2 linked regions of the Homo sapiens genome follow. The protein of the gene in region 2 purifies or fractionates together with the protein of the main gene of each other region. This does not show direct contact. Each region holds a gene or a part of one and is shown on either strand. Other genes may lie near its edges.

The links.
Region 1: the proteins of OAS1 (region 2) and LUZP1 purify together in Homo sapiens (co-immunoprecipitation; one large-scale study listed by IntAct). This does not show direct contact.

What each region holds. Positions count from the first base shown.
Region 1 is NC_000001.11:23,092,357-23,095,856, forward strand, and holds part of LUZP1 (leucine zipper protein 1), read right to left. Parts: intron 2,025-3,500; 5' UTR 1,906-2,024; coding exon 1-1,905.
Region 2 is NC_000012.12:112,913,462-112,916,961, reverse strand, and holds part of OAS1 (2'-5'-oligoadenylate synthase 1), read right to left. Parts: intron 454-3,500; coding exon 224-453; intron 1-223.

The sequences.
Region 1 (3,500 bases), on a different chromosome or scaffold from region 2:
CATCACAACTGCTGCAGGTTGATTAACCCCTTCTTTATGTGAGGTTGAAAATCCCTGAAGGATGTTCTCTTGGCTTCTACAGCTATAAGGATACTTCGATAGAACAGGAGCCTTGGAATTCGGGCAACTGTTATCAGCCTCAAGGCCATTGGCAGCCTTTTTGCCTTTAGAGAGCCCTTCTGAGGAGGATCTTCGAGATGAGGCCAGGGCTCCAATGGCCTTAGAACAGCCAGAGTTTGCAGCCTGAGTTACTTGACTTCCGTTGCCAAGCACGTGTCCCCTCTTGCCAAAGACAGTCTCAGAGGAGGTGTCAGAAGCCTTGTCAGCTCTACCCAATGGGTCACTGGGAACAGATCCATGGGTGGTGTCACTAAACGTTCGTGTTGTCTTCTCCACTTTTCCCTTCAGTCCGCTCTCGGTGCCTGGCTTGGAAGTCCCCTTCCACGCTTTACTGTGCTCCTGAGCAGCCGGGGGGTAGCGACTCAGCACTGAGGGCTGCTCCCTAGACTTCTTCCCTTCGCTCTGGGAGGAGCCGGGTACAAACCGGTCTTCAGTTTTCTTTGTCTCCTGAGTCCCACTGTCTGTACTCACCCCCATGTGAGAAGCTTTTGCTGCCCTCCTGTTGGTGAAACTGGGAGAAGAAACCTGCCTGTTGCTCAGAGAATAGTTTTCATTGTTGAGAGCAAACTCCCTGTTCCGGAGTCGTTCCCGCTTATGCTGAGGAGACAGTTCCCGCGCTGTGTGCTTGGACACAGAAGCTTCACTTCCGTGGCCTCTAAACTTAGTCCTCTCATGTCTGCCTTTGCTGGACAGGAAAGCATCTTCCCCTTCTACCTCTCCATTTTCTAACTCTTTCTGTTTCTTGATTTGTAGCTTTATCTCCTCCAGTTGGCTGGCTAATAATTTGTTTTTATTTTGTTCACTTAGGTAATTATCCTGAAGGTCGTTATTTTTGGACTTCATTTTCTTAAGCTCTTCTTCCAACGATTCAAAGTGTTTGATTTGTGTCTTAAGTTTCTCAATCTCTTGGTTAAGGTCTTTGACTTTGTTGTCTTCCTGATTGCGGTTCTTTTCATTTTCTGATTTGTTTCTTGTTTCATTCTCTACCTGCTTTAGGTAGTCCAGACCACCCTTCCTTCTTGATTCTTTGGACGGCAGTGTGGAAGAGATGCCATCCTCAATCCGTAGGTCATTTCTTTCCAGATTAGAAGCATTCCTTGTATAATCTCGGTTCATTTTTTTGTTCTGCTCTAGTTTTTGAGTGAGTTCTTTTATCAATTTCTCATTTTCTTTCTCCTTTTCATTCAAGTATTTTCTCTCACTTACAAAGCTCAGAGTTAATGATTTCAGCTTTTCTAACTCTGACGCTAAACTCTGCTCAGTTTTATCCAGGCGGTCCTCAGAAGATTCTAGTTCTTTCACTTTGACTCTGAGCATTTCCAGCTCAGAGGAGATTTTCTTGGTCAGATTTCTCTCCTCATTCAGGCTCAGACACAGCTGGGTACAGTCATTCTTACTCCTGCTGAAGGCCTCTTCTAGCTTCTCTAATTCAGCCATTCGTTTCTGAAGCCGCTCAATCTCAGATTTCAGCTCCCGGGTGAGGTTTTCTTCCTCTTCAAGTTTCTCCTTCATCAGACGACACAGATCCTCTGCTCTCTTAATTTCCTCGTCTTTGCCTTCAATTCTCAGCACCCGCTGGCGCAGCACTTCAATCTCCGCCAACATGCTGGAGTTGCTACCTTCTGCCTGAATCACCTTGTCCTGGAGATCCAGGAGTTCATCCTCTGCTTTCTGGAGGTTTTTTGTGGCTTCCTCCAACTCATCAAGGCGGCGGCTTAGACTCTGTAGCTTAAACCGCAAGTGGCGGCTGGAGGCCGTCTCCTTGTAGCTTGTAAATTCGGCCATGTCTACTGCCAGCCAATGTGGGCTCCTAGAGGCATCCAATTCCACTCAAGGGGATGAGAAATGGTTACCTTTCTCTTGGCAACCACAATCTTCTTTGACAGCTGGAGACCATCATCAATCTACAAAAGGAAAGTAGAAAGCATGTCAGTCAGCAAATGTAAAACCTGCACGTTAGCTCCCAGTTATAGAAAAGTGCTCCTATCTGTTCCTGGTGCCTGGATCATAGCAGGGGCTCAAACCTGTTGAATGAATGACTTGAATAAACCTGCAAGAAAACACTGGTTCTTTATGGCCGATATTGAGTTGATACCTCATTTCGCCCTAATAAAGAATGTCACCAGTGGCAGCATGGCAAAAAGACATATAAGAAGCCTCAATTTTCATGGCAGGGTATAATAACATCATTACCATCTGCAACCTGCATAATCTCAGGAGAGTCATTAACAATGGAAACTAAGTCTCAGTTTTACTTAGTGGTAAAATGGGCATAATGATGTCTACCGTATTTCTCCCCAGTGTTGTTCTGAGATAATATGTGGAAGATCTTGGTAACAAAGCAATAAACAATCCTAAGATTTTTTTTTTTAAAGATTATCTCTTATGAGCTATTGTGACTTAAAAGTGATACAAATTAACCCTCTGCCTTGCTATAAATGGTGAGCTTCACAATATACTAAAACAATCTCTCTACACCCATTTTCAACATCTCTTCTCCCAAAAGTATATTTGTAAGTGGAATTCAGGTGTGAGTTGGCCCGACCCAGCCAACAGGCAGCTTCTACAAAACATATCCTTTTGCACTGTAAAAGAAATGCCCCAGATGTTAAGGTTGGTATGAAGACTGGTTTGTTTCTTTGAAAGCCATTTCACTGGGGATATATACCAAACATATAATAATACCCCAAGGAAATAGAGAAAGGGGAAGGTTTAGTTTTTTTATGTAATTTTCTCATTTTTAAAACAGGAGAATGGATTGATAAATGTATTTTAAACAGCTTTCATGAACAATAAGTCCTACGAAATTAAAAGGCAAACAACAGACTTCCATTTCCACCACTACAGCAAACCAGATAACCTGGAAAACCTCTAATACTATAAAACAGCTAAAAATACTGAATAAAATGTAACAATCACTTAAAATGTATAGTTGATCACATAGAAAGTAAGTGACATTCCAGCTAAAACCAGAGGAAAAGAAAACTAAATGAAAAATAATAGTAAGTTTAAACTACCACTGAGCTGTCCTTCTTAGGGTCTTGCCGATCTCCAGAACCAAGGAGTTTGGGTTCTAACAATCATGCAGGTATAAGAGGCAAGAGTTTGGGCTCAATAGAGGTGGTAAGTTGAAAATGAGACTCCAGTCCCCAATCTAAAGCAAGGATTATTGAAGAACTACAGCTCCAGGATAACTAGTGAAAAAAGTCACCTCCCTGATATAGGGAGATAAGAGGACCCGGGCTCTATTAGGGGTTAAAGGAGGATTATCCCTAGAGAATTTATAATCTTAGACCTGCTCTCACTTGAATTCAGAGTTCAAATTTATACCATCTGAGTGGTCTAGAACCTATCTGTCCTGAGAAACTAACATAAAATGG
Region 2 (3,500 bases):
TCAGTTTACTCACCTGTAAAATAATTGGCATAGTGCCTGCCTCACAGGGTTGGAGGTAGGTGTTTAAAACAGATGGCAGTAGTAAAATGCCCAGTACAATGATGGGCAACAGGAGATTCTCACTAAGTGGGGAGCCCTCCCACCTCCTCCATTTCCAAGGCACTGTACCTGTATCCAGGTGTTCATTTACATAGGGGAGCTAAGCCATGTGGGGATAGCATACCTGGGTTTCGTGAGCTGCCTTCTCAGGTACTTTTCAATAATGGGGTTTTTAAAGTCATAATACTTTGTCCAGTAGATGCAGAGTTGCTGGTAGTTTATGACTAATTCCAAGACCGTCCGAAATCCCTGGGCTGTGTTGAAATGTGTTTTCATGCTCCCTCGCTCCCAAGCATAGACCGTCAGGAGCTCCAGGGCATACTGAGGTGGCAGCTTCCCAAGCTTCTTCTTACACTGAGAAGAGGAAAAACAATCAGAAAAAAATTGGTTTGCTCAACTTTTGTGTAAACTACACTTCTCATGGGCCAAATCCAGCCTGCCACCTGTTTTTATAAAGTTTCCTTGGAACGAATCCAGGCTCATTCATTTATGTATAGTTTATGACTGCATTCATGCTACAAAGGCAGGGTTGAGTAGTTGCAACAGAGGCTGTGCAGTCCACAAAGTCTAAAATATTTACTATCTAGCCTTTTATTTTTTAAAAAAGTGTACTGGCCCCTTGTTAAGAGCGCTGGATTCTTATTGATGTGGGTTTGAATCCTGGCTTCACCATTGTCCAATTCTAAGTAGATGACTTAGACTCTCAGAGCCTCATGATTTTCATCTGCTAAGTGAGTGGTTGTAATAGCACCTATCTGATAAAGATACTACGAAAATTAACTGAGAAGAAGGACTTGTAATGTTCCTAAGAAATGCACAGAAGCAAATGAAATTCTTTCTGGAGGAATATACATAATCCAAAACCTCAAATTATTTCACACATAATTTTCAAATACAATGACCAGCACATATGTAACCAGGCACACAAGGAAACAAAACACTAAGAGTTATGACCAACAGAAAGAAGAGAAATAGTAATAAACCTACAAACTTTAAATGCTGAAAGACCGAACACAGACTTTAAAATAACTAGGAACTCTACAAGGAAAACTACAAAACATTGCTGAAAGAAAATCATAGATGACACAAACAAATGGAAACACATCCCATGCTCATGAATGGGTAGAATCAATATTGTGAAAATGACCATACTCCCAAAAACAATCTACAAATTCAATGCAATTCCCATCAAAATACCACCATCATTCTTCACAGAACTAGAAAAAACAATCCTAAAATTCATATGGCACCAAAAAAGAGCTCACATAGCCAAAGCAAGACTAAGTAAAAAGAACAAATCTGGAGGCATTACATTATCAGACTTCAAACTATACTGTAAGGCCATAGTCACCAAAACAACATGGTACTGGTATAAAAATAGTCACGTAGACAAATGGAACAGAATAGATAACCCAGAAATAAAGCCAAACACTTACAGCCAACTGATCTTTGACAAACCAAACAAAAACATAAAATGGGGAAAGGACACCCTATTCAACAAATGGTCCTAGGATAATTGGCAAGTTGCATGTAGAAGAATGAAACTGAATCCTTCTCTCTCCCCTTATACAAAATTCAACTCAAAATCGATCAAATACTTAAATCTAAGACCTGAAACCATAAAGATTCTAGAAGATAATATTGGAAAAACCCTCCTACACATTGGCTTAGGCAAAGACTTCATGACCAAGAACCCAAAAGCAAATGCAACAAAAACAAAGATAAATAGATGGGACTTAATTAAACTAAAAAGCTTCTGCAAAGCAAAAGAAATAATTAGCAGAGTTAACAGACAACCCACAGAATGGGAGAAAATCTTCACAATCTATACATCCAACTAATATCCAGAATCTACAAAGAACTCAAACGAATCAGCAAGAAAAAAAAAATCTCATCAAAAAGTGGGCTAAGGACATGAACAGAGAATTCTCAAATGAAGATATACAAATACCAACAAGCGGGGTGGGGGGAATTGGGGAGGGATAGCATTAGGAGATATACCTAATGCTAAATGACGGGTTAATGGGTGCAGCACACCAGCATGGCACATGTATACATATGTAACTAACCTGCACATTGTGCACATGTACCCTAAAACTTAAAGTATAATAATGAAAAAAAAAAAAAAAAAACAAATACCAACAAGCATATGGAAAAATGCTCAACATCCCTAATTATCAGGGAAATGCAAATCAAAACCACAATGTGATACCACCTCACTCCTGCAAGAATGGTCATAATAAAAAATCAAACAATAATAGATGTTGGTGTGGATGTGGTGAAAAGGGAACACTTTTACACCATTGGTGGGAATGTAAACTCATACAACCACTATGGAAAACAGTGTGGAGATTCCTTATAGAACTAAAAGTAGATCTACCATTTGATCCAGCAATCCCACTACTAGGTATCTACCCAGAGGAAAAGAAGTCATTATACAAAAAAGATACTTGCACACACATGTTTATAACAGCACAATTTGCAATTGCAAAAATATGGAACCAGCCCAAATGCCCATCAATCAATGAGTGGATAAAGAAAAATGTTATACACACACAAACACACCATGGAATACTACTCAACCATAAAAAGGAACAAAATAATGGCATTCACAGCAACCTGGATGGAATTGGATACTATTATTTTAATTAAATAACTCAGGAATGGAAAACCAAACATTGTATGTTCTCACTCATATGTGGGAGCTAAGCTATGAGGAAGCAAAGGCATAAGAATGATACATGGGACTTTGCGGACTGCGGGGAAAGGGTGGGGTGTGGCAAGGGTTAAAAGATTACACATTGGGTACAATGTACACTGTTTGGGTGATGGGTGCACCAAAATCACCACTAAAGAACTTATTCATGTAACCAAACACCACCTGTTCCCCCAAAAACCTATTGAAATAGAAAAATTAAAAATAAAAAAAAATAGTCCTCTCTCTGTGATCAGTGGTTTGAATGAGGACAGGAAAGGAGAGGTATCAGAGCCATATATGTATACACATGAATCTGTGTGTGCTCATGTCACAGAAAAGAAGTGTAAATAAAACATAAGATTAACAAATAATAAAAATTAAAAATAAAATAACTAGGAATATCATATTCACAGGATAAAATAAGAACTTTAAATAGTTAGCAGGGAATTAAAAGCCATAAGAAGTACCATGGCAGATACAAAAATATGAAATAGAAATTTTAGGATAAAAATGGCAACTGTAATTAATTACAGCAAATTAGATATAGCTAAAGAGAAAATTAGTTAATTGGAAGGTAGATTAGAAGGAACTATTCAGAATAAAGCATGGAAAAATAGACAAAAGGATGAAAAACACAGAAGAGAGTATAGAGATATGAAAGATAGAGCAGGGTCTAACATACATTTAATTGGAATTCTAGAAG